Linked DNA regions of Homo sapiens: region 2 is linked to region 1. A link means that fine-mapping ties the variant in region 1 to the expression of a gene that starts in the linked region. Tissue or cell type: whole blood. Region 1 holds a variant in brackets; the other region holds the start of a gene. All regions are shown on one strand. Distances are between the middles of the regions.

Region 1 (4,000 bases):
TTAATTAGAACACAGTTATTAGTGGTTCTTAAATTCAAAGTCATATAAATTTTAGTTTATGCTTGCACTTAACTCACTCAGTTAATTTTCAAACATAAGGTTCGACTCCTGTTATTAGCGACTTGACACGTTCTGCTGAAGCTCTCACTTTTCTTCTAATTCTGAAAGTACTTTTATACATTCTGAAATGGCATTTCAGCAGATGGAAAAATGAAGGTGGCAAATCAGGACCAATTTCTTATTTCAAGGTTAAATTAATACTAAACCAGACTATTAATGAAAACATCTTCATCAAAATTAACTAGAGAGTTGGTAGTTCTCTGAAACTTTGTATAAATTTTATTTATTACTGTAAATACTAAAATCACATTGAAAACACCTTAAAGTTAAGTCCCAACCCGATTATTAGAGAAAATCACTTGGGCATCCAGTCCCCTTGATCGAACCTGGGTAACAAAAGAGGCAAAAGACATGATTTGTGATGAAACTTACTATTCAAATGCTAAATGTTTTCAAGCTTTAATAAGGTATATATCAATTCCAAGTACCAAGCATAATATAAAAATTCAAATTCATGGGTTTACTCTTAATAAGCATCAAAAGCAAATTTTGCGCACTGAATCCTATCTTACTCTTGATTGGCACAATGCATTCAGAGATGAGTTATAATTAGGAAAAAAGAGTGTCCACTGAATGCATCATGTGTAAAAATGCAATTAACATTTCAAAACCACATTAAAAGGGAAAATACCTAAAAAGTTAACTCTTAATAAAATTATTTGAAACAATATTATCCTGCAGATAAAAATACATTTCTTGTATATACATGTAGATTTCTACATGAAAGAAAAGATTCAGCTCCAAATAGAAAAGGGCTGACCCTTGATAAAGACATCTTAGATTGCCAAACTGATGTGATTACCACTGTAAGAACTAAAAACAGAAGGATAAAAAGATTAAGTTAAAGGAAGGATAAAAGTTTAGTCAACTGCTCCTGAACAGTGGCAGAGTTGGGTGAGAAGTGGGAGATGAAGGCAGAAATAAGACAAAGAAGAAAGGCAAAGAAGGCTTCAACTCTGATTGAAAATGAGTGGAGAATCAAACAAAGTTGAGAACAGATATGATATAGGTACAGTGAGATACTTGAAACTAGAATTTGATAGTTGATAGTTATAGAAGCTCAATTAAATCATCTTGAAGTGGAATTAGACAAAGCATCTACATTTTAATGGAGAACCAGTATTACAGTGACCAGGTAACTCGGCATGGTATTATCACTTAAAAATTTTTCCTAAATACCATGAAGTCGGTAGAAGACCTTTGCATCAGACCATGTTCTTTGAAGCTTAAAAAAGTCCCTGACTGACTAGGAAAGACAGCACAGTGCTCCAAAAAGAAACCCTGCAGAGATGTATTAATACCAAAAACTCCATTTGACCCTGGACAGGCCCAGGATTCGGGATTCTTCACAATGAGGGGAATGGACCAGGTTTCTTCCAAGCAAAACATTCTATCGTTTTGTTGACAATGAATTAAATTGAAATTGTTTAGAACAATCCCAATTTTGGTGGGGAAGGAAAGGAGGATAAGTTAAGCAAGATAAAGAAAGCTCACAGAAACTTCATGCAGAGGTACAGCATTAAAGTTCTTTGTTTCCTAATTAATGTTGTATGCAGAAGTATTCTGTAAACTAAATTTTCCTGACAGAAAAGTTCCCACATCCTCAACAGATGAGAATGATTGCATTATTTGGGATCCTTGATCAATACGAACCACATACTGTCCCTTCTCAAAGACTAAGTTCCTTATTTTTCACCCAAATCCTATATATTGAAAGACAACCAAGGTGCTAAATGTTAACCACTAGTCAAGTTAGGAATGTCTGAAGAAAATATATTAACCTTGACATAAAGAAGATGTTTTTGGTCAAATTTCAGACATGTATTATTATAAATTAATAACTGGCTCCATCCACCAGGTTAAAGATGAAGGGAGGGCCTAAGATGTCTCTAGAGTTTATATACACACAAGTGAGTGTCACTGTTTTGTTTTGTTTTTGACCTAGTTTTATTAAATATTGCTTCCTTGGGGTGTGTTTATAACAACTCCCAGAACATTTCATGTAAGGATTCAAAGCGGTCATATTAAAATACAGCTTCAATATAAAGTTTATCACAGTTTTACAGTATTCAAAAATGACAGACCTGCCTTAAAAAACAAAACAAAAACCAAAAAAGGACTATTACACCCAAAACATAAGAAAACAATTAAATAAACAAGTTTGGCATTTTCAT[A/G]ACTTTATAGTATAAAACAGAATATTAAATTTATTACTGGCAAACGGACACTGATTTATTTCCTTTGAAATGTGTCCCATTTAAACACACTATACAAGTTCATTATACAAAAGATGGATGATCATTTTGATGAAAGAAGTGCACCCTGAAAATTTTTGCCAGTTTAGAATATTTAGCTCTTAAAGTTTAAAAAAAAAGTCCTTTTCCTTTTTTAAACTGAAGGCTGAATTCAGATTTTTTTTGTTGTCTCATCTGTCAGCCTTCCTGGTTTAAAAACAATAGTGTCTATGGACGCCCACCAGGGGGCAGTGTAAGATTAGCCATTAAATCACGAACAGCTGCAAATATTGTGCATTCACCTGCAACAGAGAAAAATGGTCATTAGCTATTCACAACACAGGAAAGATGTTAACACACCGGTAAGGGAAGGGGTAATTAAATCTAAAATTAGTGAGAACTTTAAAGATCAAAATAAAAGACAATTTTAACTGCCCAGATTATTGGGGATTAAGCTGTGGTGTTAAGTATCAGATTATATTTGGTTTGGATTTTTTTTCTCAGGAGGAAACTTCAAGCAAGTCCCAGTTAGGTTTGTATTTAGGAAGATATGTCTAGAGTTTCTGTTTAGAAACACTGTAGCATTAGATAAGCCTTTGAAGTTGGGCTTTAAGGCTACTGAGTGCTTATAAGGGCATTTTGGATATCATAAAAACATCTAGTTTATATTTATGCATTAGTTACAACTTTGGTGGTATCTTTCAAACGTTGCATTAAAGGCCAGATAAAAATGTTTAGGACAGCGCTGTCCAATAGAACTTTTTGTGATGATGGAAATGTTGTATAAGTGTGCCATGGCTATTAAGCACTTGTAATATAGCTAGTGTGACTGAGGAACTGAATTTAAAGTTTTATTTAATTTTCATTAACTTAAATTTAAATAGCCACATGCTGGCTAGTGGCAGTTATACTGGACAGTGCATGTCTCTGACATCTATTGGAGTTTTCTCCCAAAATTCAAGGAAATGGTCAACTTCCAGAGTTCAACATTAAAATCAATTAAATACAAAAATGATTTTCTTAAAAGCACTTCATCAGAAGAGAAGTGATGGGTGTGGGAGGTGGGGTGGGAGACTGAAGTATGGTACACCAACAATCCAAAAACAGGATTTGTGGGTGGGGAGGGTGCTGGCGATTCATCCTGTCAACTTCTCCTTTGCTCAAAGAAACCAAATACTCTGCTTCTTGTAATTATTACAAGTATTTAAATATTATAAACCAAAAGCTGGATCCCTTCCTCTACAGCATGGTCTAACACTGTATACAGTGGCTGAAAGTGGGAGAACTGAAGACCTCATGTGAACCATGGCCTTTCAGCAAAGGGCAGGATGTGCAGTGATCCTGTGCACATGAGAAGGTACAGAAAGAAAAAGGAAATCCAAAGGTCTGCCCAGTCCAAGGGGGGAAAAAAATGAAAACACTTCCAAAATATCTCAACAATTTCTGAAAAGGAGAAGTATTGTTTTTTAAAAAACACATTTTCATTATTGATAGGCAAGAAAACTTGCTTGATCCCAATAGGATCAAAACATTTTCCTTTTAATTTTAAATTCCACAAGACATAATACATAAAAACACATAAGATAATGACAGCCATCTGCTTGTGAAGGAATGGTGTTTATTATCAAGGTTCTACTGGACTGTTACTT
Region 2 (4,176 bases), 84 kb after region 1:
CTCCTGGGCTCAAGCGAACCTCCTGGGCCCAAGCAATCCTCCCACCTCCACCTTCCAAGTAGCTGGAACTACAGGCTTGGGCCACCACACCCAGCTAATTTTCTATTTTTGGTAGAGACAGAGTCTCGAACTCCTGGGCTCAAGTGACCCCCTCCCCTGCCTCAGCCTCCCAAAGTGCTGGGATTACAGGTATAAGCCACCACACCTGGCAATTATCAACACTTTTTAATCTCAGTGAGATGGGGAACCATCGAAGGGTTCTAAGCAGAGAAATTTTAAAAGAATCATCCTGGCTATTTTGTGGAGAAGAAACTATAGAAGGGGCAAGGGAACTACAGAGATACCAGTGAACTGACTATTGCAGTACACAGGTGAAGGATTAGGTGGCTTGGACCAGCACTTGGTGGAAGTGTTGAGAAATGGTCAGACTCTGAAGTCAAAGATAACAGGACTTGCTGATGTATGTAGGATGTGAAGAGAGAGGAGCCAGGAGTTATTCCAAAATATTTGGCCTGAGCAACAACAGGAAGAATGGAGAGACTAGTGAGATAGCAAAGAAGGTTCTGCAGGAGGGAGGACAGTGGAATCAGGAGTTTGGTGCTGGAGTTGCTATGTTGAAATGCCCATCAAGATACTGAAATGTAGGCATCTGGATATAGAGTCTGGAGTTCATCAGAGAGGTCTGTGCTGGAGATACAAATATGGGAACCATCACATAAAGGGTGTGGGACTATAACTACATACTTATTCTACGGCAATAAAACAGATGTTCCTCTCTTCATAAGCCAAGTCCTAAAATAGTAAAAAGACAACCACAATTCAAGGAATTTCTACAAATCCCCTATGGAAAAGCAAATTACACCACCGATAGCAGCAGTTTTCAACATTTTTTTTCCCACAGCTCTATATAGGCACATACATGAAACTTTCTCATGGATATTCTTGGATTTTTATGAAATCCAACAATAAATGGTGCAGAGAGGTATATCATTATAATAGTCCCTAAACCTGACAGCGATTTAAATTTCTCATTAGCCATGGGTAGGCTTCTTTAACACTACTTTTTTCTGTCCCATTCAAAAAAGTACAATACATCAAAACTGAGAATGACGTTTTACAGGAGTTAAGTAGAGCCTACTCTTTCAGTCATCTGCAAACAAGTATCTGTTATCAGTCTCTAAAAACAAATTACTGTGACGCTTTAGAGCCTAATATCTGCATACTAATGTATCTCAATTGATAACCCTGATCTGAAGTCTTGCAATAGATAAAAAATAAAATTCTGATTAACTTTTTCTGAACCTGGGTTATAAGATGTACAACAGAGTCCCAAAATGTTACGGTGCCTTTTCTTCACACACTGAAATTCGTTAGTATATTCTGATCCTATTCTGAAGGGATTAACAACTTAATCATGCCCCAAGGCATTTCATGGGTAACTAGGTGATTTATAAACCCCCTTCATACTCCAAGAAATAACAGACTACTTACAAAAAAATTTTACTCACACTAACTTCATTAAGACCTCAAACACTCAAAAGTTCCAGAAAAAAAGTACTTTGAATTCAAATTTGTATTTTATACACAACGTATGTAGCTCCTGCATTAACTTAGAAGCAATAACAGCTTACATTTAAAACGTATCGTCAAGAGGCTGTAATACAAATTTCCCATCTATAGAGTTTTTTCTAAAAGCTCGAATATTATGTATTCCAGCCAAGAAATCAAGAGAGTTCTGTTGGGAACTCGGACAAAAATTTCACACAATTTTCAGTGGAAGTGTAACAACACGCAAAATTAACAAGTCTCTGTTGCATCGTTGCCAGGAAGACCCCAGATACAAAGCTTCTTCTCCACCTCTGCTGAACCCCAGGAGTTCAAAAATTCTAGACTAAGCAGTCCAGCGGAGAACACAGCAGCCTCTCGGGGAGAGGGAGGTGCAAACGTCTCAGCCGGTTGGGCGGGAAGGGGGGCTGGGGAACAGGCAGGGGTTTCGGGGCACTTACAGGTCCGTCAACACCATAAGCTCCGAGTAGGCCCGGTGCAGCAGAAATTCAATGAGGGTGCTCAGCCGGTAGCCCGGGCTAGCCGCAGCTGCAGCGGCCGCCGCCACGGCGGCTCCCGGGGGAGGAGGGGCTGGGGCTGACGGGGGTCCGCCGCTGCCCCCGCCGCCGCCTCCGGGCGGGACCAGCTGGTGGTTCTCCAGCTGCACTGGGGCCATGGCGGCGCAGGACCGGGCTTGGCGCAACGGCACACGATGCGGTCCTCGAGCCTCCCGGGCGCTCGGTCACCGCGCCGAAACGGGAGCGGGCAGAGTCGCCACCGCCTACCGCCGGGCCGCCTCAGAACAGGAAGCCGTGCGCCGACCGCGGAAGCCCGCCCCCATGTAGCGAGAAGTCCGCCGACCCCAGGGACAGGAGCGAGGGGCGGGGGGAGGCGGGGATGGGGGGGAAGCAGGGCGGCCCCGCAGAGGGGAAGCTGCGCCTCCGCAAACGCTCAGAAGCAGCTTCGCCAGACAGCCGCAACGTACATGTTGACTGCCCGAGGCGGAAGTCGATCGGCAGAGCGGAAGGGGGACCTGCAGAGGACCTTCCGACAGGTCTGTGTCTGTTCTCTCAGCTGTCTAGCACCGCAGCGCTGGGGGGCGCGTGGGAGTGAGGCGGTACCTGTGAGCGCGCGGGAGAGCGGAAAAGGGAGCCGCGCGCCGCCGGAAACCAGGGTGAGGGCTGAGCCGGAGTCGTCACCGGGAACGTCAGCAGTTGCCCCGCCCTTACCCTCGCCGCTCTCCCTCCCGCCTCCGCCCCCTGGCGTTGTAAAGGCGACAATTTGCCCAGAGAAATCCACCATCGCTTCCTAAGTGGGGCACAAACACAGCCAGGGGAGGCCTCCTCTAAATGTTCGTGAATTCTGGTTCTGGAATCGCGAAGAAATGGGAGCGGCCGCGCGCTTGTGATTCTCAGGCCTTTGCTCCTCCCATACACGTCCACGGCGCGTTACGTGGGAGAACGTTTTCGCCCCTTTTTTTTTTTTTCCAAACTGTGGGAAAAGGTGCTAGAAAATATGATTGCGGGTAGAGACAGGGCCGCTGGCAGAGTAACTCAATTTTAATAGAGTCGGGTGTATGCTGAGGTCGTCACCATCCCCCAAATCCTGTCAGTCCCACACAAAAACGGCCCTTAAATCCCCTGCCACGGGCTCTCATATAGTTTTTGTCCTTGCTCTTGCAGTCACCGCTCTATTCTGAAGGGCTTTTCAGTTCATCCATGCCTACCGACACTCCCGTCCCCCCCATCAAAGTCCACGTTTAATTTTTTGTACCTGCTTTAAAACAGCGATTCTCAACCTTGGCTGCACTTTGCAATTATCTGAGGAGCTGTTTTTTAAAAAAATACTTAGATATATGGGTTCCACCCCTGTAGATTCAGATTTAATTGGTCTGGCTTGAGGTCTGGGCTTGGGGAATTTTTGAACTTTCCTAAGGTGATTCTAACATGCCCTAACGTAGAGATTCACTATTAGAAGCATTCGTTGCTGCGACCCCTTTCAAACATCTTTTTGCAGTTTCATCTCCTCTTGGTGTAAGAGATGTTCATGATGTTCCCTAAGGTTAGAATATTCTTACTGTCATCACTTGGGTAATTCTTTATCATTGTTGAAAGCGGTTCATCTGCTTCTGAAGGTGTAAGCTCACTTGTTCCCTCCCTTGGTGGTCCTAAAGCACATTGAAACAGAATATCATTGTGCTAGTTATTAAAATGCATTGGGATTATTTATACCCCTTACAGATACAGTTGCTGGAAGGCAGCTACCTTATTTTTAAATATTATTTTTATTTTTAATTGATAGTATATACTTATGGCATACAATGTGATGTTTTGAAACATGTAACCATTGTGGAATGAGCAAATCAGGCTATTAACATCTATCAAATGATATACATACTTACTTCTTTTGGTGAGAACATTTAAAATCCACTTTTAGCAACTTTGGAAGATACAAAAGGTTATTGCTAATTGTAGTCACATTGCTGTGCAATAGATCACCAGAACTTATTCCGCCTATCTAACTGAAACTTTGTACCCTTTGACTAATATTTCCCCTTTCTCCACCCACTGTCCTACCCGGCCTCTGGTGGTAACCACCATTCTACTCTTTACTTTTTTTTTTTTTTTTTTT

Evidence for each region. PIP is the estimated chance that this variant, and not a neighbour inherited with it, causes the effect.
Region 2: MED14 starts here. The variant in region 1 is fine-mapped to the expression of MED14 in whole blood (TOPMed, PIP above 0.99). The same link has a PIP of 0.9 or more in monocytes.

What each region holds. Positions count from the first base shown.
Region 1 is chrX:40,649,227-40,653,226 of GRCh38, forward strand. MED14 (mediator complex subunit 14) reads right to left here. Exons shown (of 31, transcript NM_004229.4): 31 at 1-2,653. The coding sequence ends at 2,580. Among named protein-coding and RNA genes, the nearest start is that of CXorf38, 3.7 kb to the left of the region's middle. The variant A/G (reference allele first, on the strand shown) is at 2,295.
Region 2 is chrX:40,733,192-40,737,367 of GRCh38, forward strand. It overlaps MED14 (mediator complex subunit 14), which reads right to left and starts at 2,351. Exons shown (of 31, transcript NM_004229.4): 1 at 2,007-2,351. The coding sequence starts at 2,221. MED14OS (MED14 opposite strand) reads left to right here and starts at 2,499. Exons shown (of 2, transcript NR_169211.1): 1 at 2,499-2,599. RefSeq lists enhancers at 1,721-2,642, 2,643-3,563 and silencers at 1,959-2,338, 2,599-2,688.